Linked DNA regions of Homo sapiens. The protein of the gene in region 1 purifies or fractionates together with the protein of each later gene. This does not show direct contact. Each region holds a gene or a part of one and is shown in the gene's direction. Other genes may lie near its edges. The genes, in order: RABL2A, CEP43, SLK, SEC23IP, TBC1D9B, VPS13A and SPTAN1.

Region 1 (4,229 bases):
CCTCACTAAGATAGGTGCATATCTGATTCCCTGCTTTGGAGAGGCTAATCAGAAACTCAAAACAATGCAACCTTTGTCTCTCACCTACCTGTGACCTTGGAAGCCCCCTCCCTGCTTCCAGTTGTCCCCACCTTTCTGGATGGAAGCAACGTACTTCTTACATATATTGATTGATGTCTCATGTCTCCCTAAAACCAAGCTGTGCCCTGACCACCTTGGGCACATGTCGTCAAGACCTCCTGAGGCTGTGTCACGGGTGCACGTCTTTCTAAATTACCTGAAACCATCTCAGATAGGGTTCACACATCCCTTTCCCGAACCCTCCCAGGAGCCCCTCGTGGGCGCCCAGGTCCTGCCTGCTGTTGTGGCCCAGGCTCACCTGGAGCAACTCGACTCTTCGTTACAGCCTCGTGAACCTTTCAGTTCCTAAAGCTGTCTAGCCTGTGAAAGGAAAATGAATCTGGGGGCCCCAAAATCACTAAGCTAAAGGGAAAAAAGCTGGGAACTGCTTAGGGCAAACCTGCCTCCCCATCTATTCAAAGTCACCCCTCTGCTCACTGAGATAGGTTAATATGTGATAGCCTCCTTTGCGGAGGCTATTCAGAAACCCGAAAGAATACAACAGTTTGTCTCTCACCTACCTGTGACCTGGAAGCCCCCTCCCTGCTTCGAGTTGTCCCGCCTTTCCCGAGGGAACCAACGTTCATCTTACATATATTGATGTCTCCTGTCTCCCTAAAATGTATAAAAGCAAGCTGTGTCCCGACCACCTTTGGCACATGTCAAGACCTCCTGAGGCTGTGTCACGGGCGTGCGTCCTCAACCTTGGCAAAATAAACTTTCTAAATTGACTGAGACCGTCTCACATATTCGAGGTTCACAAGCCCATGCATGGGGACGTCCCCTGGGGTAGCGCCCCTCCTCCACTGAGCTCACTCGCTTCCTCCTTGTGTGTTTTCTTCAGAAGAAATTTCACAGCTACTTGGTCCACACCTGTCTGCCCCACAGGAACCTCTCTTCTCCACAGGCACATGGGCGGCGTACCTGCTGGGCTGTGTGGAGAGGACCGGGTTCCTCTCCTGATTCCTGCTCAGTTAATAACGAATGTCGACAAGTCGAGAAAATTGCTCAAATTTACCCCATCAAAGAATTAAAAACTGGTGAAAGCTTGACCTGCGCCCCCCACCCCTGACGTGCTCACCGCTCCACTCCCTCTAGGCGGGCGGCACCCGCTGAAGCCTCAGTACCACACCCACAGCCAGGAGCCCCAGTCCCGCACTCGGCCGCATGCGCACTCCCTGCGGCCCTCCCGCCAGGCGCCGCGCTGGGCAGCCAGCGCCCCGGCGGGGTCCTTCAGGCCTTCGGCCGGGCAGCCTCCCTCGGGGTCCTTGCGCGGTTGCGTAGCAGCTGCGAGGACGCGGGGCGAGCCGGAAGTGGAGTGCGCTGCGGTGCGAGCTGGGCCGGCGGGGTGGTTCGAGAGCGCGCAGAGTCCAGACTGGCGGCAGGGCCCGAGGGGCCGACCCGCAGCGTCCCTGGTCTCTCCAGCCCTCACTCGGAACCGCACGTGAGGGCAAATCCGCCCCGGTGGCTGGCTTAGCACGCGGGGACAGCCCCTCCGAGGCCTCCCTAGCGGTGTGGGCGAGAGGGCGTCCGGGTCGGGGGAAGCACGGAAAGGTGGCTTCGCGAGGCTGTTGTGGGGGGCGGGACGGGCAGCCTGGCGATGCCTGGACATGGTTGGTGGCCAAAAACATTTATCGAAAGATAGCATACCCACTTAGATGGCGAGGACATCGACAAGCAAGTCTTCGCCCGTAAGCGGTGGCTCACGCCTATAGTCCAGGGATGCCGAGGAGGGAGGATCGCTTGAGTCCAGGAGTTGGAGGCTGCAGTGAGCCGTGATCGCGCCACTGCACTCCAGCCTGGGCGACAGAGTGAGACCCTATCTCTAAACAAAAGAAAGAACGTCTTCAAGCATGGAGCCATGAAGCTGGATTTGGCTTTCTGTCGCTCTCTCTACAGGGTACAGGTGAAAGGGGGCAGACCCCTCATCATGCTTTCCAGGCATCTGCCACTTCCCAGGAATTGTCTCCCTGGATAAACAAGGCGAAGTCCCTGGCTGTGCAGAAGCAGTAGCTGTGTGGTGGCACAGTCAGGAAAACTCGGGGGCCCTGTTGGTATTTTCTACCCCTGACCCGTGTGCATACTTCTGTCGTAGCTCTCACCACAGTAGACTCTGCTATCATTGTGTCTTCCATCCTCTGAACCCTGTGCAAGGTCTGCTCATGGTGAATGCCCAGTAAGGCTCACCTATTGCTGCTATCTCATCATCATATCATTTCTATGTGCCCCCCTAGCTAAGAGTCTGGACTGTGGTTACATTCTCAGGAATGTCTGCAAAGTCATATTTAGGTGTGAGGAGAGTAAAACAGAGCTAGACATAATGTTGCACACAGCCTTTGGCACTGGATGCCTGGTGAATGTCTTGTGCAAATGGGTAACGTGAGGAGCAGCATTTGGGGTGCGCAGGACTTAACTATTTGTGTATAACATATTACTGATGCCTGTGTGTCATCCTCTGCTACTCCAAGTCTAGTAGCCAATTGCATACCATATCTCAGTCTGGCACTGAGGGAAGCAGTCTGGATGGAGGTACAGCTGGAGATTTGGTTGAGGGGACTTATCTCTGACAACAGCCTCTTGTTGATCTTCCCAGACAGTGACAATACCCTCCCCTCCCTTGGGCTGGACCCCTCTCTACAGCTAGGAGCCAATGGCAGAAGACAAAACCAAACCGAGTGAGTTGGACCAAGGGAAGTATGATGCTGATGACAACGTGAAGATCATCTGCCTGGGAGACAGCGCAGTGGGCAAATCCAAGTATGTTGGGAGATTAGGGAATAAATACCAGCCCCAGAGAGGGTCCAGGTCATTTAAAAAGTCCTCCAGAGGCAGAGGAGCATGGCTTCTTGGGGCTGGTGAAGGAGCAGTCTTGGCTGGAGCCCAGATGTTCATGGGGGAACGAGGGGAATCACATGACCCGTTGTGTGTGTCGGGTGGAGGGGGCAGGTCATAAGGACTGAGGAATTTGAATGTTTCCTCTGAGCCCTGAGAGAACGTGTGGAGCAACTGAGGACATTGTATGTGGTTTGTGGGCTGAGGGATGGCAAGGGCGGGGAGTGGGAATGGAAAGACAAAAGTGACTATGCCACCGTGACAGATTGGGTAAAGGTGGTAAAGATGCTTTCTTGGAGGGACTCTCTGAAATAGAGAAAACTGGGTAGAACTGACGATTGACTATAATCATTGTGAAGACTGGCTTCTTCTTGTAATGAATTTCGGTGCCTACATGCCACCTGGAGAGGTGAAGGGAGGCTCTGCCGTGCTGCCAGCTTGTCTCCATGAGACGTCCTAGTTCTCACGCCTAGGACTGCTGAGGGCACATGTCCATTTCCGCCTTCATAGCATGACGGTACACTTGCCCCTGCCCAGAGAAGTGGTCACGTTTATCTCCCAAGTACTCCAGGCCCACCTTGGTTTCTACCTTCATTTTTATAGTCAAGTCCTTTGACTCAGGTAGCTGTGAATAATTCTCTGGGGGCTTTGCTGGTTTTTAGGCCATCTCCATGAATTTGAATTCTCTGTCTCTCTCTCTCTCTCTCTTCCCCACCACACAATCACACACTGCAGCTCTGGTTTAGAATTTTTTTTTTTTTTTTGAGACGGAGTCTCGCTCTGTCCCCCAGGCTGGAGTGCAGTGACGTGATCTCGGCTCACTGCAAGCTCCGCCTCCCGGGTTCACACCATTCTCCTGCCACAGCCTTGCGAGTAGCTAGGACTACAGGCGCCCGCCACCACACCCAGCTAATTTTATTTTTGTATTTTTAGTAGAGACGGGGCTTCACCTTGTTAGCCAGGATGGTCTTGATCTCCTGACCTCGTGATCCGCCCACCTCAGCCTCCGAAAGTGCTGGGATTATAGGCATGAGCCACCGCGCCCGGCCTCTGGTTTAGTATTTTATAGTTACTTTGACCATCCTCAACAGCACGCCTGTACAGTAAAAGTGAGGGTAGGTGTTGTAGTTTGGGAAGGTTACCCAATAAATAATACCCCCTTTATCCCCACTCAAGTTTAAAACAACAAAGAATAGAAATGGCAGGCAGGTGTAGAGCAAATTGCCACTTTAATAACAAACAGAGCTTTCGGAGAATGTATCTTGGTATACCCAGCT
Region 2 (3,500 bases), on another chromosome or scaffold:
ATGTTTAGCAAGAAGACCAAGATGACAAGATGCGCCAGGAGACTTGGCCAGAGGACCTCCAGGCTGACAAAGTTTCCCCGAGGAAGTCAGATTGGAAAAGTGTCCTCAGGTTCAAGGAAACCTGGGTGTGCACCGGGTGAATGAGAGTGGCAGACAGAAGGAAACAGCAAGGCCTCTGAGGTAGGAGGGACAGCGTTTTTGAATGTGAAATTTATTCCCTGATACATGTTTTTAAAAATGAATCTTGCTGCCCTTAGAAAATGAACCCCCGAACAAGGTAAGGTCGAGCTGGCCCCTCGTGTCATCCGACTTTGCGTTGTGGCCCTGCCTGCAGAAACGTGTGCTCTGCTACAGCCCTGGGAGGAGGGGCCGGGCTCCCAACTCCTGCCCCGCTTCTAGCACATGCTGTGCTTGGCCACTTCTCTGCCTCTTAGTTTAACAGCAGCACTGGGCAAGGTTTGCCCTCTGCACACCAGACCGGCTTCCCAAGAACCGGGGAAGAGGAGAGGGCATGCCTGGGGCCTGAGCTTAGTGGGCCGGGTGGAGGCAGGAGGTACTGCATGGAGGAGCGTGGACAGTGGCATGCAGGAGGCCAGTCATTCTGCGGTTTTAGCTGGAGGTTTGTTTTTGGTAGTTTGTAGAATCATCAGATTTGATGATGAAACTTTTTTTCCATAAATGTTAAATTTTCAGACACTTGTATTTTTTTTTTCCTTTTTTTTTTTTGAGACTGAGTCACTGTCGCCCAGGCTGGAGTGCAGTGGTACTAGCTCGGCTCACTGCAACCTCTGCCTCCCAGGTTCAAGCGATTCTCCTGCCTCAGCCTCCTGAGTAGCTGGGATTACAGATGTGTTTCACCATGCCCGGCGAATTTTTTTTGTATTTTTAGTAGACACGGGATCTCACCGTGTTGGCCAGGCTGGTCTTGAACTCCTGACCTATGGTGATCCGCACCCCTCCCCGCCCCCCCCGCGGCCCAGCCTCCCAAAGTGCTGGGATTACAGGCATGAGCCACTGTACCCAGCCCTGTATTTTCTTTAAAAACCAATTTTGGGCCGGGCACGGTGGCTCACGCCTGTAATCCCAGCACTTTGGGAGGCCGAGGCAGGCGGATCACGAGGTCAGGAGATCGAGACCATCCTGGCTAACATGGTGAAAACCCATCTCTACTAAAAATACAGAAAAAAAATGAGCTGGGTGCGATGGTGGGTGCCTGCAGTCCCAGCTACTCGGGAGGCTGAGGCAGGAGAATGGCGTGAACCCAGGAGGCGGAGCTTGCAGTGAGCCCAGATCACGCCCCTGCACTCCAGCCTGGGTGACAGAGCGAGACTCCGTCTCAAAAACAACAACAACAACGAAAAAACGATTTTGGCATGTTTTGTAAGTTGCCAGACTATTGGATATACCTCTTAATCATACTTTGTTTGAAATCCTTTGTGGTTTCTAAAGCACTAGTAGCTTTCTGAAAGGAAAATTTTTAATGAATGAAGCATGCTTCATCCTGCACATCCCCTCCTGCCCCAGCACCCCTACTGCCCATGCGCCTCTCCTGCCCCAGCACCCCTACTGCCCCAGTGCCAGGCCTTTTCTAGCAGCTCTCATGGGTTCATCCCTGCTGCGGGCATTGCTCCACCAAGGGGCAGTGCTCTCCCTGCCGGTAAGTGTTGGAACTTCACGTTTCCCTCTAGTTTTCTCTTTACATTTTAACATACACTATTATGTGTCAATATATTAATTATATATTAATTACATTTATAGAGGTTAGGTATATATGGCAGATCATATCTGAGCGTGAATTACATTCTCCAATATTTTTATTTGTCATGATTTATTGCAGGGTTCACTTATTTGATCTACCCCAACTTAACACACATTTCCAAGAAAATATCCATCACACTAGAAAGAAAGAAAGAGGAAGGAAGGAAGGGAGGGAGGGAGAGAAGGAGAAAGGAAGAAAGGGAAGGAAAATGGAATGGAGGAAGGGAAAAATGGAAGGAGGAAGGAAGGAAGGGAAAGAATGAAGAAAGCCATTTGTTCCTGCAAACCTAAACCTCTTTGTAGTAAGTTCTGGCAGAAGGTGTGTTTCTGGAGTTAAACTACAGGCTTGGAAATGGAATTTCTTAGCCTAATTTCTAAATTAGAACTGCTTATGCAAATTAACACTCCGTACATTTCAACAAGCAGTTGGCTGATTTCTTCTGTCCACTCCACCTGCAGATGCAGAGGTGGCCCCATCCTGTGATGTGCCACCACATCCCTTTTCAGTGAAGGGCTTTGTTGGCTGCTGTGGGCATTCTCATGGCCTCTCCAGGGATGGCCTCCACTGTAGAGACCTATGTCACCAAGGCCAGGCCCTCTCAGGGGGCTCCATCCAACGACCATTCTGCCTCAGGGTAAGAGGCCCGGCCCTCTCAGCCTGAGTCCATTCTGGCTCCAGAGCTCCCTGAGAGCTTGCCTGGCAAGTTACTCTTGCAATTCTAGCTTCCAGCAGGCGTTGATTTCTGGGGCACTTTTGATAAACTCCTGGCAGGAAACTCAATCTCTGGGGGTCAGAGTCCACTTCCTGGGGAGCCCAATCTGTGACCCCTAGGAGTGGGGACCATGGAAGCACTTGGCTCTCCAGCATGTGCTGAATAGGGGGCGCTGCCTGCAATGTCCACGTGGAAACCTGGCTGGGAGAATGCCTGTGTGCTCTGCATGGGGATGTAAAGGTGTGAGCAAACCTTCTTCAGAGAGGGGATGTTCAATGCGAAATTTGAACATTGGGACCTGAAAAACTGATGGGCTGATGGGGTCTGCCCATGATTGGCAGCCTTCATAGAATCACGAGGGAGGAGCACAGGCCACCCTAGACAGGAGGGGTCCCCTACTGACAGGGAGGTGCTGTCGGGGCAGCAGGCACGTGCAGGAAAACGGAAAAGCAGAGTAATTGAATGTAAATCATGCAACTCCACTACAGTGGCTAGAAGCCTGGATGGGCAACTTGGCTGAGTGATGTTGGGCAAGTTATTTAATATCAGTATTCTCAGTTTTCTCATCTGTAAAGGGGATTAAATACTTCCTTCCCTTACAGGGCTGCCCTGGTCTTAAGTAATGCCCACAGAGAGCTTAGCATTGTTCTTGGCAAGTCACTAGTACTCAGTAAATACTATTTTTATTAAGAAGGTAAGATTCACAGGACTTAGTGTCTTAACTAGATGTTGAGAGTAAGGAGAAGAGAGAATACTTCTCGGATGATTGTTCAGTTTCTGATGAATGTCTGTTCCCCTTTCAAAACCTAATTCAGATGTCACTTCCTCCTCAAAGCTCTCGCCCCGCGCCGAGCTACTGTGATGTATTTTTATGACCTGGCAGCTTTTTTCTCATATCCCTGTTAGCGGTATGTGGTAAGAACATGAGACACAGAATCAGAAACCATGGATTTCTGGTCTTGACTCCACTACCACTCAGAGGAACCTCACGGTGGATGCCGTAAGTGTTTACACTGAAAAGGATTTTCA
Region 3 (3,981 bases), on another chromosome or scaffold:
CAACGTCCACACTGCCCCACCAGGGAGTGCTGCCCAAGGGGGCTGGAGGCAGATCAGGAAGTGGGGGCCTTAGCTGAGGTGGAGTCACCAAGAGTGACACCAGGTTTACAGTTGTGGAGGTGGCCAGAAGTTAGTTTTACCCTCAAGGGAGTGTCGCAGTCATCAGTTGAGAAGTGGGGGCCCGGCGCGGTGGCTCACGCCAGTACTTTGGGAGGCCGAGGCGGGCGGATCACGAGGTCAGGAGATCGAGACCATCCTGGCTAACACGGTGAAACCCCGTCTCTACTAAAAATACAAAAAAATTAGCGGGGCGTGGTGGCGGGCGCCTGTAGTCCCAGCTACTCGGGAGGCTGAGGCAGGAGAATAGCGTGAAGCCGGGAGGCGGAGCTTGCGGTGAGCCTAGTTCGCGCCACTGCACTCCAGCCTGGGCGACAGATCGAGACTCCGTCTCAAAAAAAAAAAAAAAAAAAAAAAAAGAAAGAAAGAAAAAAAAGAGAAGTGGTCTTAAACAGTTTTTATGTATCTGTGTCTATCTTGCCTGCACACTTAAAACAACAAGAGTAAGAACTAAGATTGAGCGTTTACGGGTGCAGGGGCCGCGCAAAGGGCTTCCATCTATTGTCTCATTCACAACCTTCTGGTAGGGACTATTAGGATCTTCATTTTACGGCGAGGAAACCGAGGCTCGGAGAGGTCACCTGCCCAAGGTCACAGATCTCTCTCTCCAAAGCTCAAGCTCACAACCACCACACAAACTCCCCTCTCACTGTACCTGGGGCCCGTCTGAGAGCGAAAAAGTCCGCTTTCAGGTCCCAACCCTAACAGGTCCGGCTTTCACTCCACAGTTTTTCCCAGATCCAGAATGGAGACAACATCCGCTAGCACAATCAACAGGGTCGTCCCACGGGGGCCGCTCCATCAAGGCCGTGGACTGACAGGATTTGGGGCTTGGAGGGCAAATGAGAAACAATCGTCAGGGACCGAAGAACAAATGCGTCCATCACACCAGCCCCCCGCACCCCGAGCCCCGTGCTCCGCTCACGCGAACCCTCGGGGGCAGCCAGTCTGAGGGACGTAGCGCGCGTGCGCGGGGCCAGAGGGGACGCCCCCACGCGAGCGCGCGGTGAGCAGGGCGCGTGACCGGGCGGGCGCGCAGCCGGGAAAGCGCGCGGGCGCGCTACGGAGTCGGCGTCGGCGCGCGCTCCAGGCCGAGGCTGTGTGGGCTGGGGAGGGAGACAGGCGGCGGCGGCGGCGCCCCAGACCCGAGGGGACGCGCGGGCCTTGCGCCGCGGGAGCGGACGGCGGCGGAGGAGACCCTAGGCTCGCGGCCCGAGGCGGGAGGGCTCGGCTTCTCGACTGCCCGCCTCCGAGGCCGCCGGCCGCTTCTCTCTCCCAGAGTGGCCGCCGCCCCTGGAGACTCGCCGTGACACGGGCCTAAGCCGCCGCCGCGGGAGTCCTGACCGCTCGGACCCGTCGGATCAGGCCGGGTGGGAGCGAGCTTGCGGGCAGGTGCCGCTCCCGGAGGGTGGGCCGGAGGCGAGGCGCCCACCGCGCGGCTCGCGGGCCGGGCTCGGCGGAGGGGCCGCTCGCGCAGCACCCCCACCGCGGGCCGGAGCCCGGGTCGCCGCCCCGCCTTCTCCCGGGACCGCCCGGCCGGAGCTGCGGGGGCCGAGGGACGCCGCGCCCGCCGCCGCCAGCCGGGCTCGCGCGGGAGAGCAGGGAAGAGAAACTTTGCCTTTTATTGTTTTTAGTCCTTAAGTGCAAGGAACTCTGTGTTGGGAGGAAAAATGTCCTTCTTCAATTTCCGTAAGATCTTCAAGTTGGGGAGCGAGAAGAAGAAGAAGCAGTACGAACACGTGAAGAGGGACCTGAACCCCGAAGACTTTTGGGAGATTATAGGAGAACTGGGCGACGGAGCCTTTGGGAAAGTGTACAAGGTAAGAGGGGGAAAACGGGAAGTTGTACTGCGAAGGTAAAACAGCCACTGGCCTGGAGTGGCGGGAGGACTTCTGCTCCCCTGGTCCTTATCCTGTCCTTCTTTTGACTGTTACGGTTCGATGCAACTTTACTTGGCTGATCATCCAAGGAGTAGCTAAGAAGTCGGGTTTACGGTGGAACAAAATGGGGCCTGGATGGAGTTTAAAGAGCGATTGGAAAAGGAGACAGGGTTATAAAGTCTACTCTTTCAAACTTCAAAGGAAATGAGAGTGTTCTTTAATTTATAGGAGGGGTCTGGTTGTGCCCTTCAAGTATTTTAGAATGAGAAACTCATTGCACTTTGCAGTGGATTTGTCTACTGACTGCATTCGCGTGCATGCTTGTACTCCAACAGTTCTGTTTTTAGGGTCCAGTATATATATTTGGTTGTATCTAGAGCTAATACAGAACTAGTTGGGATCAAAGTGATTGCTACTTGCAGTCTCTTCTTGAGTTAGTTGCTTGACAGCATACTATAAAATAGAATGGAATTTCTGACAAAATTTCCAAAAAACCTTCATGTGGTACTAGTTTTAAATATATTTATGGTAAGCATTGACTAGAAGTCAGTATCAGCGCTTAAGCAGTTAAAAACACACACGCATGTATTTATTTCAATAGAAAGAGGCTTGGCGTTTCAACCTGAAGGCATTAATGTTAACTATTTAATATCTCCTAAGGAACATATGAATGATGTCATTGGAGTATTTTCATCCTGAAGGGCGAATTTTTTATGAGACAGCGTTTAGGGGAAGGACCCACAGGGTTGCCTAGAAGTGAAAACGTAAGAAAATAACTTATGTTTATACAGGACTTTGAAGTTTTTAAGTACTTTCAAATAATTTGGCCCCCACAAAAATCTTGTGAGGTAGGCAGGTCAGTATTAGTATCCACATTTCACAGATGAAGATATTGAAATTGTTCACAGTCACATGAGTCTCAGCCTAGACTTGAACTCAGGTCTTCTGAGCCCATATTTAGTATTGTTTTTTATTTTAACAGTCACTGGTAGAAATGAGAGCATTTTGCCTACTACTTTCTTTTTTTTTTGAGACGGAGTTTCGCCCCTTTTGCCCAGGCTGGAGTGCAATAGCGCGATCTCGGCTCACTGCAACCTCCCCCTCCCGGGTTCAAGCGATTCTCCTGCCTCAGCCTCCCGTAGTAGCTGGGTTTACAGGCATACGCCACCATGCCCGGCTAATTTTGTATTTTTAGTAGAGACAGGGTTTCTCCATGTTGGTCAGGCTGGTCTTGAACTCCCGACCTCAGGTGATCCGCCCGCCTCGGCCTCCCAAAGTGCTAGGATTACAGGCGTGAGCCACCGTCCCCGGCTGCCTACTACTTTCTAAGCACCATTACACTTCTGCCTCTGCCCTGCCTCAAATGCATCTTGTCAAAACCCCAGTCCTCATTCTTTATCCAGGCTAAAATATCTACTCCTCTCTGTGTGCTTTCAGAACACGTTGTTCACATGGCTATTATAGCACTTGTCACTTATTACAATTAATATGTTTATGTTTCTATAATAAAATTAAGGGCCAAAATTATGATACATATTTGGGTTCATTCACTGCCTTAGCGTATAGTGATGTGTCTGTTTATTTGTTGAAATGAAAGAATGTGTTTTGTCTGCATATGAATGCTGTCGTGGAAGCTATCATAGGCTGTGGAAGTTGGCAAAATAAGCTTTGTTATTTGTGTGGAGGGTAGAGTATGGGCTTCAGCAAGAGCTTCATAAGATGCAAGGCTTCATTGTAGTGGGAAGATCACTCCTGGGAATCAAGAGTTGTGTTTTAGTGCTGGCTGTCACAAACCAGCGTTGTAATCCTGGACAAAACACTTAACTTCTCTGGACCTCCGTTTTCTTAGCCATAATATTAACTTTCTTAGGAGTTTAGATTCTTTCACCCATTAAAGTTCTGTGAGTATGTAATTAGCCTGGAAAGGCAAAAATAAATGCTCAAGGCACCTAGAATCTTGTAGTTAGAAGGTGGTAGGTGATTA
Region 4 (3,500 bases), on another chromosome or scaffold:
CATCAGTTTCATTGCCAGGAATATTTCCTATAGAGAAATATTCAAACAAGAATTATCTACAAGGATACTCACAGCAGTGTTTGCAAGGTAACAAAACATTAGAGACACCATTGGTGTTGAGGAGTAGGGTGCTAGTGAAATCATTTATGGTGCATCCGCATAACGGAGTACCCTACAGCTGTTGAATGAATGATGCAGTGTCAGAGATACCCGTCTCTAAGGTACATTTACATGAAGAGAGCAGAGTTCATTACTGTGTGCATAGTAGAGCACACACACAGAGAAAAACATGTAAGTGCTATGCATACATAAGACATCGCTTCAAAGAGAGCAAGTTTCCACAGTTGCGCTGAGAGGAGAATTCTATGTTTGGGACAGCAGTGGGAGGAAGATATTTCATCGTATGCTTGACTATAGCTTTGGAATTTTGTATACCATATGTGTATTTTCTGTTAATTAATAGAATGATTTAGGTGTGGAAGCCTAAGATTTTATAGCCTAAACTGATGCATGATTTAAATACAAAATAACTAACTTGTAAAAAGTTGAGTGGCTCTTAGATTGCTTTAGATGATGTGGTTTCTTTATAATTTTCATATTCTCATTTCAGTTCTTCTATCACTAGATTGATTAATGTGCTTGTCTGTTTCCTTTTAAAGCTTATGTGTACAGTTGATGACCTGAAGGAAATGGGGATACCCCTTGGACCCAGAAAGAAGATAGCTAACTTTGTAGAACATAAAGCAGCCAAACTGGTAAAGTTCACCTCTGACTCAAGAAAAACTAAAACTCATGGTGTGACCAGCTCGTTTATATTATAGAAAATTTTAATACTACTATGGTTAGGTAAGCTAGTTTGCTCCCTACCTAGGGCACAGTAATGGAGCTGATGGAAACCCAGACTTAGGAGTCAGAGTTGGGCTTAAGTCCACATTAGGCTAAGTGACCATCCTGGTTTTCCTGGGACTAAGTTCCTAGGATGAAGGGCTTTCAGTTTTAAAATGGATATTTAAGGTTTTCCTGGTGCAAACAGTGGTTAAGTTCTGACAAATAAATTCTCAGCTCAACTGCTCATTAACTGCGTATTAATGAGCAATTTGTATTTGGTTTTATTCATTTGTTTATTTTGAGATGGGATCTTGCTGTGTTTCCCACTGCTGGTCTCAAACTCCTGGGCTCAAGCTATCCTCCCGCCTCAGCCTTCTGATCATGAGTGATTTTCTTAATTTTTCTGATCCTTTGTTTTCTTCATTTCTAAAATGGAATAATACCTTCCTTACAGGATTGGAGTAAGCATGAAATAATGCATGCAAAGCTTAGCACCAAGTAATAGCTCACTTTCTTCCCAGTCCTTACCATCTAAAGAGATGAGGAAAAACATACACACTGAAGTCTTAAACACTAAACAGCAAAAATTGTTAACAATACAAAACAAGGCAACAGCTAAAAAGCATTTAAAACTAGAACAACTGGAAAATATACTTGTTTTATTAATTTTAATTTATTGATCAAATTAATTTTACAGAGGTTTTCTAATTAGAAAAATTAGATGACTCTTAGGGTGGCCGTCTTATTTGTATTGTTATTAACATGCTCTTTGATGATCCTTCCATCTTTTGAATTTCTATGGTTCTATTATTTTACTACCTGTTTGGAACTTAACCTACATCATTTCTTTATATGGGAAATGACTATAAAGTCATAGGACTGATTTTTTTTTTAATGGTTAGCTTAAGGAATTGAGTCTTCTCAGCATTTTATTGAATAGCAGCTACCTCTTTTGAGTCAGGCACTGTGTTCAATTCTTGGGAGCCGGAGATTAACCAAGAGTGTGCTGTCTAGTTGCGGGGAGCACGTTGAGCTCAAATGACAACATACCAGCCCCATAATAGCGTGCTGTGTGTGCTGTCCTGAGGCAGATGAGAGGTGGCAGTTCTGGCTTGTTGAGACAAGCATGGGGTTGGTGAGAGAAGACTTCTCCAAGGTGATGGTGCTTGAGCTTGAAGGAGGGGTAAGGTCAGGGGAGATGGCCTTCTGGAATCTGGCATGTGTTTTCCTGTAGCATCAGGGAAGCTGGAAACTGGGAAGGGCAGAGGGTTCCAAAGGCCCAGGTGGCAGGTGTGGAGGCTTGGATTTTCTCTTGTAAGGGAGTGGTTTTCAAACATGTTCTTATGGCCATGAAAGTCATGGTGTTTTTAAACATTACAAAATGCTGACCTGCTTATTCTATCACAAGTTATGATTTAGCACCAAATCATCTGTGTAGTCTAAATTTTAATTTTAACTTTTGGACTGTGGAGAGTTTGCTTGGTCACAGTGCACAGATGAAGTTGGAAAGGCGTGAAGTGGAGGCGGCTGCAATCTTACATAGTAGTAATTGTAATTGTACAGTGACTGAAAGAGAGATGATAGGGGTATAAGGTAGGAGGTGGAGAGGAAGGGAGCAACTCAAAAGACATTTTAGACATAGACAAGCAGTATTTGATTAAGTGCTGAGAAAGGTTATTAGTTTTGGCAGTTAAGAGGTATCTTTCATGTCATTTTTCTTGTGTGTTGAATCGTTCTGTAATTCCAATTTACAAAGAGCTTTTCATCTCACCTGAGCCTCACAACAACCCTGTGAGTAGATCCCCAGGCTTTTGTCTCTGATGAGCACAATAGTCAAACTGAGACTAGGACACAAGCATGTCAGTGTTGTTTCTGTATACAGGCTGCGTGCTCCATACAGAAAAATGCTTGTCTCCGTGTATACATCAGTGAAGCAAAAGCCTATAAAAAAAAAAACAAAAAAAACAAGAAATGAGAAGCTTTGTGTTCAGGCCCTACACCATGTTCTTAATTTATTCTGTAATGAAAGGGAAAAAAGTAGAAAAGGATTCTATAGTTCTTGAAGAATTTCTAGAAGGAGACTGGTTTATGGACTGCAGTTGCTTAGATATATAAATTATGGCATTATAAGAATGTTTTGAAATGAGCAAAAATCTATAGAGTGATCTTATTTTTTAAATTAAAAGGTAATTGCCTTTGGATGAACCATGAAACTTTCTCAGCTGAGTTGCCATTGATTGCTTTACACTTCTTACAGATAACAAGGTGCTACTAGATCAATACAAAAGTAATATGGTGTGTCCTGTTGATTTACTGTAACTGAAATAATGGGACCAAAATTAGCGATTATTTTATAACAAGGAGATCAAATATTTGTGATATTTGTGACTGTGTGCTTTTTTTTTCTTTTTAAAGCATCTTAGTAATTTTCATTTGAAAAGGAATTGTTTCTAGTGTTGGGGATATTGATAGTCAAGTATGTATATGTTGGTTCCGTTTTTTTTTTTTTGAAAGGGAGTCTTGCTTTGTCTCCCAGGCTGGAGTGCAGTGGCACGATCTCGGCTCACTGCAACCTCTGCCTCCCAGGTTCAAGCCATTCTCCTGCTTCAGCCTCCCAACTAGCTGGGATTATAGGCGTCTGCCACCACACCCAGCTAATTTTTGTATTTTTA
Region 5 (3,500 bases), on another chromosome or scaffold:
CCTCTGCCCTCCTGCAGGGTGCCCAGTCCTCTGCACACTCCTTATTAGGAGTCTGCATAAAGATTGGGTCCCTCCGCATCACCCAGCTGTGGGAAGGAGGCTCCCTCTGCCTGGGCGTGGTCTGGACTGTTGTCCTCTGTCCTTTGCAGATACCTGGATAATGTGGTCAACAAGCAGAGTGTCTCTCCTCCTATCCCGCACCTCCGTGCCTTGCTGAGCAGCAGCGATGACCCCCCTGCAGAGGTGGACATCTTTGAGCTCCTGAAAGTGTCCTATGAGGTCAGCACCCAGTGGGGCCATTTTGGCCAGGCCGCTCCATCTGGCATGTGGGTTGGGGTGGCTATGGGCAGGTGGTGGCCCTCTGCCCTGCAGTTGGCTTGATCTCACCAAGTCACCTCTCCCTATAGAAATTCAGCAGCCTGAGGGCCGAAGACATTGAGCAGATGCGGTTTAAACAGAGGCTGAAAGTGATCCAGTCCTTGGAGGACACGGCCAAGAGGAGTGTGGTATGGGTGCCAGCAGGGCTGGGCAGGGGCTGGGCTGGGGGGGCAGCAGTGCCTTCCCCACAGAGCAGGGTGGGTACAGGGCTCCACCGCACCCAGTCTCCTACACTGCTTTGGTATGTACATCATGGTAGGATTCATGGGACCGGGATCCAGGGGTGTAGGTGGGAATGTGGGGAGAGGTTCCAGTCACTTTTCTCTGCTGGTGGATGTGTCACCGGGAAGCTTCTCAGATGGCTCCCACCCTGAAAGCCACATGCCCAGCCCTCTGGGCCGAGCCCGCCCAGCCTGGCTTCCCATGTGTTCCCTGCCCCACTCCCAGGTAGCAACATGCCGCCATCCTCCGCACACCCCAAATGGCATGTGTCTGCCACAAGCTGCTGTTCTCATCTCTAGAGGGGCCAGGCCCTCCCTGCCACCCTGTGCTGCAAGACCTGTTTGTGGTCTCTGCCCCCAAAGGCAGGGACTTCCTCCATTGTTTCCACATTCCCAGCCCTCCTGCAGGCTTGTAGGACACTGTAAGGACATTGGGTCGCAGCACCACAGACTGACTGCTTTGGCCAATTAAAGTACAGGAGCATTGGCTGGCAGGTTCTCGGCCTCCTTCCACAGAGCTGGCACCAGGGTCTCTGCAGGGATCCAGATGACGGGAGCCAAATGAGTATCCCTCACTCTGCGACCTCAGCTGCACGTTGAGGACAGAGGCTCCCCCACGCCCATCCTGGGAAGGGGCCCGGAGTGTGAGAGAGAGGCTCCCCCACGCCCATCCTGGGAAGGGGCCCGGAGTGTGAGAGAGAGGCTCCCCCACGCCCATCCTGGGAAGGGGCCCGGAGTGTGAGAGAGAGGCTCCCCCACGCCCATCCTGGGAAGGGGCCCGGAGTGTGAGAGAGAGGCTCCCCCACGCCCATCCTGGGAAGGGGCCCGGAGTGTGAGAGAGAGGCTCCCCCACGCCCATCCTGGGAAGGGGCCCGGAGTGTGAGAGAGAGACTCCCCCACGCCCATCCTGGGAAGGGGCCCGGAGTGTGAGAGAGAGGCTCCCCCAAGCCCATCCTGGGAAGGGGCCCGGAGTGTGAGAGAGAGGCTCCCCCACGCCCATCCTGGGAAGGGGCCCGGAGTGTGAGAGAGAGACTCCCCCACGCCCATCCTGGAAAGGAGCCCGGAGTGTGAGCTGAGTGGTAGGTGGGGGGCCAGGGATGGGCTGTGGGCCTCGCTCTCTCCCGAAGGGTCCGCCCTTGAGTGCTGGGCCACTGAGAGGGCGGTTCACACCCTTGCCCTTGTCTGCCGAGGATGCTCTCACAGAGTGCCGTACTTCTGTGCCAGGAGCTTGTGATCCAGCTATATACCCTGTTTCTCCTTCCTTCTAGGTCCGAGCTATACCTGTGGACATTGGTTTCTCCATTGAAGAGCTGGAGGACCTTTACATGGTGTTTAAGGTGACAGCTCAGAGCCAGGGCAGGACCCGTTCCTAGCTTCCTAGCTTCCTGCCAGAAAAGAAATGGATCTAAGAGTATCCTCTTAGAAGTAGATAGAAATAGGGAATAGAATAGAAAAACAGAAACAGATCTAAGTGCATCCTCAGATGCAGTTGCCATGAACCTCCTGTGGTAGAATCGAATCCCTCTTGGAGTTTAGGCAGGACCTCTTAAATGGCAGCAAATCCATTCAAGTCATCTTACACAGAAGAGGGAATACATTGCCCCTGTATTGCTAGACTGAAAAGTCTAGCAATGCACAGCTTCAGGCATGGCTGGATCCAGGTGCTGAAATGTGCCGTCAGGCTTCCCCATCTCTGATGTCCTCTGCACTGCTCTTCCTACACCATGCCAGGACTGTCGTCACAGCTCCAGGGTCATACTCTCTTCTCAGTAATCCCAGTGCAAAGAGAATTTTTCTTTCCCTTGTGCTTTTAGCAAAAGACCCAGCCTTAATGGTTGGAATCTGCCTTTCTGTTGTTGTTGCCAGTTCCCGTCCACCTCTCCAGCTGCCTCAGGTTCCGTGCTCAAGGTGGCTGCTGCGCTGTGGCCCTAGCGTCACAACAGTTGAGCCAGCTCTGCCTGCCTCCTAGAGAGGTCATAGGAGCGAGAGCAAGCCTCAGGCCTCTTGTTTCCCTGGAGCCCTGCCAGGAAGGCTCAGCCCTTCTCTGGGGCCAGCAGACCAGCTCTGCCCCCTGCAGGCTGCCAAGGACTCTGTCTCTCAGCCAACCCCCTCCCCATCTGTTAACAAGGGGCTGATGACAGCCTGAGAGCTTTCGGGAGGTGCTGCAGTGTCTGGCCCGTGCTTACCGCCCCAGGGCTCCGCAGGCTTGGACAGAGGGGGAGGGTGGACACACCACCAGCCTAGGGGTCCCCTCGACCCACAGGCTTAGCGGCTGGACCGTCTCACCAGACCGTGTCCCACAGGCCAAGCACCTGGCTAGCCAGTACTGGGGGTGCAGCCGCACAATGGCCGGCCGTCGGGACCCCAGCCTGCCCTACCTGGAGCAGTACCGGATTGATGCCAGCCAGTTCCGGGAACTCTTTGCCAGCCTGACACCCTGGGCCTGTGGCTCCCACACACCTCTGCTGGCAGGGCGCATGTTCAGGCTCCTGGACGAAAACAAGGACTCGCTGATCAACTTCAAGGAGTTCGTGACAGGGATGAGTGAGTGCCTGCAGGGCCTACCAGGGGCTTGACCCTCCCTCACCCTTTCCCAGGAAGCCTCCAAATGCCAGCATCTCCTGTCTGTTCCCCCTGCAGCAAGTAGGGGGCAGCTTGAGCCCCTGGCCCTAGATACGGGAAGAACAGTTTACCCACGGGAGCCGAGATGGGGTCCAGCAGGAGCCTTGCCCGCTCCCCTCCCTCATGCAGTCTGGGGCTGCTAGAAGCTGGTCTGCCAGCCCCAGGGAAGGGCTGAGCCTTCCCAGCAGGACGCCAGGGAGACAGGAGATCTGGGACTCACCCTGTGACCTCTCCAGGAGGGAGTTGGGCAGCACAGGCTGTGAAGAGGGTCCTACTCGG
Region 6 (3,500 bases), on another chromosome or scaffold:
TGTTTGTTTCTTTGTATTTTTTTCCTGATGCTTGGTATGCATCTATAGAAGCATAAATGTTCTAAACATTGTCACCATAGAAATATAAGATGTAATTTTGATACAATGAATACATATATATTAGGATATAAGATAAACTGTTGCCCAAATTTGCAAGACAGTTGGCCCTCCACTAAGCAAAGAGAGAGAATAGAAAATGGAGGGTATACCAATTCTCTCTTAGTTTTTGACTTAGAAGTTTTAAATATATATTTCTTCTATTCACATCTTTTTTGGCTTGAATATAGCTGTATGACCACACTTTACTTCAGTAAAGGTTGGAGACTGTGGTATTTTTTTCTGAGCTACCTTGTGCTCAGATAAAACTTCTATTACTGTGGAAGAATAGAACAGATATTAGGTTCTAGATGTCCTTTATATGGGATAATTAAGGAGTGTATTATTAAGTCACTTTTTAAATAGTTGTTTTTATTAACTTGTTTATTTGACATACCTATTACTAGGAAAGTCTTTAAATAGAAATATTTTTATATTTAAACATTAATTTAGTGGTATTGATTTTTCTCTCATAGGTTTTGCAGCCCTGTGACTTGTTTTATCAAACTACTCAGAAAGGTACAGATCCACAAGTGATCGATATGTCAGTAAAATCCCTGACACTAAAGGTAAATTAAAATATAATCATTTGAATATTTAGTGCACTTAAAAAAAGTAGTAAAGCCTAGAAAGTTATTATAGCAAGTCTTTTAATTGTTATGCAAACAAAATAGGTGTGTTTTTGAAAATACGTTTTTATGAGATATTTACAAAGTAATATTATTTAATACACATTTTATGAATGTTATTCTATATTTTATTATTTACATTTGTGTGGTTAACATCTAATATCCCTAATAAATATTATTGAAATTACTTTATACTTCATCAGTTTAATAATATCTGCAATTCATGTATATTAATAATATCATGTAATTCATGGAATAATATCTGCAAGATTCATGTAAATATCTGCAAGATTCATGTAAACACATAACAAGAATTATGGTAATTTAAAAAATTTTATAAACAATAAATTGTATCTTCTATTTTGTGGTAGTAATGTTAATTCAGTATTTAATTTCTCATAATATATATTTAATATTTCTTGACGTAGTATGTTTGAAAGTGTTTTGTATAGACTTATTAATTTTTTTCCATTTAGGTTTCACCAGTTATTATAAATACTATGATTACCATAACTTCAGCACTGTATACAACTAAGGAAACCATCCCAGAAGAAACGGCTTCTTCTACTGCACATTTATGGGAAAAGAAGGATACAAAGACTTTAAAAATGTGGTTTCTTGAAGAATCAAATGAAACTGAAAAAATAGCTCCCACAACTGAATTGGTACCCAAAGGCGAGATGATAAAAATGAACATTGATTCTATTTTTATAGTTCTTGAGGCTGGAATTGGTCATAGAACAGTACCTATGCTTCTGGCAAAGTCACGTTTTTCAGGGGAAGGCAAAAACTGGAGTTCCCTAATAAATCTGCACTGTCAGCTTGAGCTAGAAGTAAGCATATTTTTCCAGTTTTATAACAGATAATGATACGTATGGAATATTATGACAGATAATGATACATATGGAATATTATGGAATCTTGTGTAGCTATTTAAGCTTATTGTAAATATGATATTGGGTCAAAAACTTTTAGAAAAAAGTTTTCAAATTTTGCCCTTGAATAATTGCTTTTATGTATACATTCCTTTTACTTTTAAAGTACATGTCCACATTAAGTTTATATTTCAACTGATTTTATCAACTTAAAGATAATATATTATTCGACAGTTGTTGATTAGATTCAGAATATTTTTTTTAAAGAGTTAAATTGAGGCCAGGCCCAGTGGCTCACCTGTAATCCCAGCACGTTGGGAGGCCAAAGCAGAAGGATCGCTTGAGCCCAGGAGTTCAAGATCAGCCTGGGCAACATGGTGAAACCTTGTCTCTACTAAAAATACAAAAAATTAGCCAGTGGTGGTGGCTCACACCTGTAGTCTTAGTTATTCGAGAGACTGAGGTGGACGATCACTTGAGAATACCTGGGAAGTCGAGGCTGTGGTGAGCTGAGATCTTACCACTGCACTCCAGCCTGGGGTTCAAAGTGAGACCCAGACTCAAAAAAAAAAAAAAGAAAAGAAAAGAGTTAAAGTTGAATACCCTTTTTTTTTTAAGGATATAGACAGAATTTCTGAATATGTGGATAATAATCTCTTCTAATAGAAATATGAAGAATTAGAAATATATGCCTTATACTTTTATGTAATGTAGAATCAAGGAAAGATGCTTAAAAAGGGGTTTTATCTGGACTAAATTGTGAAGAGCGAATATGTACTATGAAGTTAGCCAGGTGAGGAAAATGCTGAGGGAGTGCTTATAGGAAGCTACTGAATGGCATGTAGACTGGTTTTTATATAGAAGAAATAACAGGGCTAAAAAACATGGTGGGAAACAGGATGGAAGATCATTTTTAATTTAAAAAATTCTCTCTGTAGGTGCATTATTATAATGAAATGTTTGGTGTATGGGAGCCTTTGCTTGAACCCTTAGAAATTGATCAGACTGAGGATTTTAGACCATGGAATCTTGGTATCAAGGTATATCTATATATGTCTATGTGTGTATATATATATATATGTATTTTAAAAGACTTTATTTTTTTAAGAACAGATTTAGGTTCACAGCAAAATTGAGAAGAAGGAACAGAGATTTCCCGTATACCACCTACTTCTGCACATGTATAGCCTCCCCCTTTATTAACATTCCCTCATCAACGTATATTTGAAGACTGAAAAAATTTTCCAAAATTGAGAATGTTTATACCACACTCGACACTTTATTTTAATCACAACAAGGTTCAGGTTGTCTCATCATGAGCCTTGCCCACATGCTTCCTTGTTTGCCCTCTGAATATAATTTTCAAATCTAAGGCCAATGTTGCCTATGCTTCTAATACAATTATGTAACAAGTATTATGTTACTTGTTACATAATTTAGAACAATTTAGAACATAATTTAGAACACAGTTTAGACATTGTTCTAAATATTTTAATCCTTACAACAACTCTTGGAGGTAGATACAGTTTTTATTTAACATGTGAAGGGACTGAGACCAGGGAGGTTAAGAGACTTCTTGAAGTAATAATAGCTACAAAGTGGAAAAGATGGGATGCAAATCCAGCTGCAGAGGCGTTAAATCCACTCTAAACCACTATGCTATAATGCCTGTGTCATCATCTTGTAGGTTGTTGTCTATCCTGAGTTTCCTTCATCCTTTGGATGTTTGCATGTGTGCAGGAATGTATATTATTTGTTTGAAATATATTGTGGATTTATATAATCATGAGAATCGGGGCCTTTAGGTGGATGAAATTTTGCTTCTGAAGCAAGAGACTGCAGAATTACTCACGTGTTTCCTACCTAATAATGACTTGGTCAACCTGCAGACAGATTTTCA
Region 7 (3,500 bases), on another chromosome or scaffold:
CGCAGTGATCTGCGGTCTGAAGGAGAGCAGGAAAGGGGGCATGTGTGACTGAGTCTCAGCAGTGTCCAGGTGGACAGTTTGGCTTGGGCATCTGGGGGACATGCTGGTGCCATCTGAGCCTAGGAAGAGCAAGTTCCAGTCCTGTGGAGTCACCACAAATTGGCTTGTCACTCCTTGTTCAGGAAACTTTTGACGCTGGGCTGCAGGCCTTCCAGCAGGAAGGCATTGCCAACATCACTGCCCTCAAAGATCAGCTTCTCGCCGCCAAACACGTTCAGTCCAAGGCCATCGAGGCCCGGCACGCCTCCCTCATGAAGAGGTGGAGCCAGCTTCTGGCCAACTCAGCCGCCCGCAAGAAGAAGCTTCTGGAGGCTCAGAGTCACTTCCGCAAGGTGAGGATGGGGCCACGTGAAGCTTAGCTGGCCCACAGCTCAAGGAAGGACGCCCACCTTCTGTCTGCCCAGCTCTGCCACTCCCCCTTGAGGAAGCTGTGAGCTCAGTGCAGAGCTTTCAAACATGGGTGTGGCTGGCATCAATTAAAACCAGGGCAAATGAGAGGGCCCTGTGAGATCGCCATTCAGAAGCACGCAGGACAGACTAGAGACAAGGGCAAAGGGTAGGAAGGGGAAAAAAGGCTGGTGAAGACTTGAAGGGGGAGCAGGAGACAGGAGCAGAGGGGAGCTAAGCTCCCAGCAGGCTGTGTGCGCCTCTGATTCCCAGGAACCACCCCGCACCCCACCTCCTGCACTGCGTCGGCACGTCCAGCCCTGGCGACTCCGCCAACTCAGTCTCTTCTGCTTCCAGGTGGAGGACCTCTTCCTGACCTTCGCCAAAAAGGCTTCTGCCTTCAACAGCTGGTTTGAAAATGCAGAGGAGGACTTAACAGACCCCGTGCGCTGCAACTCCTTGGAAGAAATCAAAGCTTTGCGCGAGGCCCACGACGCCTTCCGCTCCTCCCTCAGCTCTGCCCAGGCTGACTTCAACCAGCTGGCCGAGCTGGACCGCCAGATCAAGAGCTTCCGCGTAGCCTCCAACCCCTACACCTGGTTTACCATGGAGGCCCTGGAGGAGACCTGGAGGAACCTACAGAAAATCATCAAGGTACACCTCCCGCTGCCCTCAGGAGCTGCTCGGCCTCCCAGAGCCCTCTCTGGGCCCTGCTCAGAGCCCACACTTAACTGAGTCACGACAAGACGAGCAGGATGGAGGAGCATGGTTTCATCAGAAGTTTCATTTCTTTTTGTGTTCTTGAGGCAGGGTCTCTGTCACCCAGGCTTCAGTGCAGTGGTGCTACCATGGCTCCCTGTAGCCTCAACCTCCCAGGCTCAGGTGATCCTCTTGCCTGAGCCTCTTGAATAACTGGGACTACAAGCACGTGCCACCACGCCTGGCTAATTATTTTAATTTTTGTAGACAGGGTGTTGCTATGTTGCCCAGGCTGGTCTTCAACTCCTGGCCTCAAGCAGTCCTCCTGCCCAGGCCTCCCAAAGTGCTGGGATTACAGGTGTGAGCCACTGTACCCAGCCAGAAGTTTCCATTTCTGACAGTCCAGCAACTCCCTGCTTGACTGACCAGTCGCTTCCCTCCAGGTCCGCCTCTTCCTTGAAGCCCCTGGGGGGTGGGAACAGAGAAAGAACTACCAAGTGCTCTGAGCCGGCCTCATGTCTCCCAGCCTCCTCCTCTCATCTTTGGGGAGGTTCCTTGTGGGGAGGCCACCACCACCCTGAGCCCATCTGTGAAGGAGGGGCTGGTGTCACTGCCACAGCAGCGCACAGCATCTGCCCCCCTTTGGCCCTCAGGAGAGGGAGCTGGAGCTGCAGAAGGAACAGCGGCGGCAGGAGGAGAACGACAAGCTGCGCCAGGAGTTTGCCCAGCACGCCAACGCCTTCCACCAGTGGATCCAAGAGACCAGGTGCCAGCCCGCTGGGGCCGGGGAGCAGCAGCATGTCCCTGCTGTACTTAAGCCCTGGGGAGCTTCCAGCCCCAAGGAGGTGGTGGTGCTTTGTGTAAAACCAGAGGCAGCCTGGGAATAAAGCTGGGCTGGCAACGCCTGGTCGGGCTCTGGAGCCGGGAGTGGGGGCATAGGTGGAGCAGCCTCTCAGTGCTGCATGTCCCAGACATCAAGTTGTTAGAGATCCCGGATTGAGTGGGACCATGCAGGGCGCGTGGTCAGCCCCAGCCATGACTTGGTGACAGACGATGCAGGGTCTGTGCGTTGGGTACTGATGTTCTTGCTTTTGTTTTCCTTTCTTTCTTGTGTCTTCTCTCTGTCCCCCCGATTGCTGCTGTTGTCCGGACACCACCTTGTCTCCCGGCTGCTTGGATCTGCTCTCCACAGGACATACCTCCTCGATGGGTTAATATTGTTTTCTTCCTTCTCTGGGCTTGTCATGTGGGGGTCTCGTGCGCTTGCCCCTCGTGGCCTGGCTTGTGGAGGATCCCGGGATGGGCCTTCCTGCCCAGGGCGGGCTGCACTTCCCCTCCCACCCTTCTCGTCACCTGATGAGGAGTGTGTGCCTTGCCCCATAGCCCATGGTCCCTGGTCCCCGATAGAGCCTTCAAGCCAGGGGGAGCCGTCCTTGCCTCACTGGGCGATTCCAAGGGCTCACTTTGGGTAGGGAAGGTGATGAAGCACGAAGGCCAGAGCTGGAGTCCAGAGGCCCTAAGAACCCCCGTGCCTGTCCAGCCACCGGGCTCTGTTGGGCTCTCACCTCTGCTTCCCCAGCGAGTCCAACAGTGGTCAGTGGGCATGAAGCAGATGGCAGTGCTGGGGGCTCAGGCAGGGTACAGTAAGTCCACAGCTGAGAAGGGCTGGGCACTGACACCCCCTAAGTAGCTGAGGCTGCCACTTTACTTTCCTGGGGTCAGGGAGGGTAACAAGACTGTCCGCCCTAATAGAAGGCAAAAATGCACCCGTTATGTGATAGACAGGACGTGGGAGGAGCCCCAGGGAGGAGCAGGGCTGGGCTGTCCCGCCCAGTCCCGGCAGGGACTTCTCTGCTTGGCCTGGGGCCTCTGCCTGGCCGGGTCACCTTTGTAATCTGCCAAGCCTGCTGTGAAAGCCAGGGCTGCTGGGACTGGAGTGGCTTGGCCTGCACTCCTGAGGCTCTGCACCCAGGCACATCAAGCCTGTATAGGCGGCCAGGGGAGAAATAGACCCATCCAGCCGGGCCACACATTCTGATGGCAGAGCAGCTGGGGACGTAGGGATCGCAGTTTCCGGCCTGTGCCCGTAGGACACCCTGGCCACCTGACTCCCCTCCCTGCCCCATGCCTGTGTCTGCTGGTCTTGCTCTTGTCTCCGTGAGGTGCCACGCTCCCCTCACCTTATGGCTCCTCCCAAGCCCTGCCCATCTTGCCCATTCCTAGTGTGAGCTGCCTGGGGTGAACCACTGGGCCTGCTGCCTCCAGGTACCCGCCGGGCACCAGGTTGCCCTTGCCTGCGCCCTGCCAGCTTGGGCTTTGTGTGTGTCTGTTGCAGTGTGCTCTTGCCTCCCCTC

The links.
Region 2: the proteins of RABL2A (region 1) and CEP43 purify together in Homo sapiens (affinity purification with mass spectrometry; one large-scale study listed by BioGRID and IntAct). This does not show direct contact.
Region 3: the proteins of RABL2A (region 1) and SLK fractionate together in Homo sapiens (co-fractionation; one large-scale study listed by BioGRID). This does not show direct contact.
Region 4: the proteins of RABL2A (region 1) and SEC23IP purify together in Homo sapiens (affinity purification with mass spectrometry, with the first as the bait; one large-scale study listed by BioGRID). This does not show direct contact.
Region 5: the proteins of RABL2A (region 1) and TBC1D9B fractionate together in Homo sapiens (co-fractionation; one large-scale study listed by BioGRID). This does not show direct contact.
Region 6: the proteins of RABL2A (region 1) and VPS13A purify together in Homo sapiens (affinity purification with mass spectrometry, with the first as the bait; one large-scale study listed by BioGRID). This does not show direct contact.
Region 7: the proteins of RABL2A (region 1) and SPTAN1 fractionate together in Homo sapiens (co-fractionation; one large-scale study listed by BioGRID). This does not show direct contact.

What each region holds. Positions count from the first base shown.
Region 1 is NC_000002.12:113,625,837-113,630,065, forward strand, and holds the start of RABL2A (rab-like protein 2A), read left to right. Parts: upstream 1-1,429; 5' UTR 1,430-1,564; exon of another isoform or gene 1,565-1,632; intron 1,633-1,778; exon of another isoform or gene 1,779-2,717; 5' UTR 2,718-2,770; coding exon 2,771-2,877; intron 2,878-4,229. UniProt on the Homo sapiens protein: Plays an essential role in male fertility, sperm intra-flagellar transport, and tail assembly.
Region 2 is NC_000006.12:167,044,397-167,047,896, forward strand, and holds part of CEP43 (centrosomal protein 43), read left to right. Parts: 3' UTR 1-3,500. UniProt on the Homo sapiens protein: Required for anchoring microtubules to the centrosomes. Required for ciliation.
Region 3 is NC_000010.11:103,965,959-103,969,939, forward strand, and holds the start of SLK (STE20-like serine/threonine-protein kinase), read left to right. Parts: upstream 1-1,181; 5' UTR 1,182-1,787; coding exon 1,788-1,937; intron 1,938-3,981. UniProt on the Homo sapiens protein: Mediates apoptosis and actin stress fiber dissolution.
Region 4 is NC_000010.11:119,920,230-119,923,729, forward strand, and holds part of SEC23IP (SEC23-interacting protein), read left to right. Parts: intron 1-659; coding exon 660-755; intron 756-3,500. UniProt on the Homo sapiens protein: Plays a role in the organization of endoplasmic reticulum exit sites. Specifically binds to phosphatidylinositol 3-phosphate (PI(3)P), phosphatidylinositol 4-phosphate (PI(4)P) and phosphatidylinositol 5-phosphate (PI(5)P).
Region 5 is NC_000005.10:179,869,898-179,873,397, reverse strand, and holds part of TBC1D9B (TBC1 domain family member 9B), read left to right. Parts: intron 1-149; coding exon 150-279; intron 280-407; coding exon 408-506; intron 507-1,867; coding exon 1,868-1,936; intron 1,937-2,902; coding exon 2,903-3,143; intron 3,144-3,500. UniProt on the Homo sapiens protein: May act as a GTPase-activating protein for Rab family protein(s).
Region 6 is NC_000009.12:77,317,034-77,320,533, forward strand, and holds part of VPS13A (intermembrane lipid transfer protein VPS13A), read left to right. Parts: intron 1-572; coding exon 573-665; intron 666-1,201; coding exon 1,202-1,558; intron 1,559-2,538; coding exon 2,539-2,640; intron 2,641-3,500. UniProt on the Homo sapiens protein: Mediates the transfer of lipids between membranes at organelle contact sites. Binds phospholipids. Required for the formation or stabilization of ER-mitochondria contact sites which enable transfer of lipids between the ER and mitochondria.
Region 7 is NC_000009.12:128,625,587-128,629,086, forward strand, and holds part of SPTAN1 (spectrin alpha chain, non-erythrocytic 1), read left to right. Parts: intron 1-182; coding exon 183-392; intron 393-804; coding exon 805-1,101; intron 1,102-1,417; coding exon of another isoform or gene 1,418-1,504; intron 1,505-1,799; coding exon 1,800-1,912; intron 1,913-2,338; coding exon 2,339-2,356; intron 2,357-3,500. UniProt on the Homo sapiens protein: Fodrin, which seems to be involved in secretion, interacts with calmodulin in a calcium-dependent manner and is thus candidate for the calcium-dependent movement of the cytoskeleton at the membrane.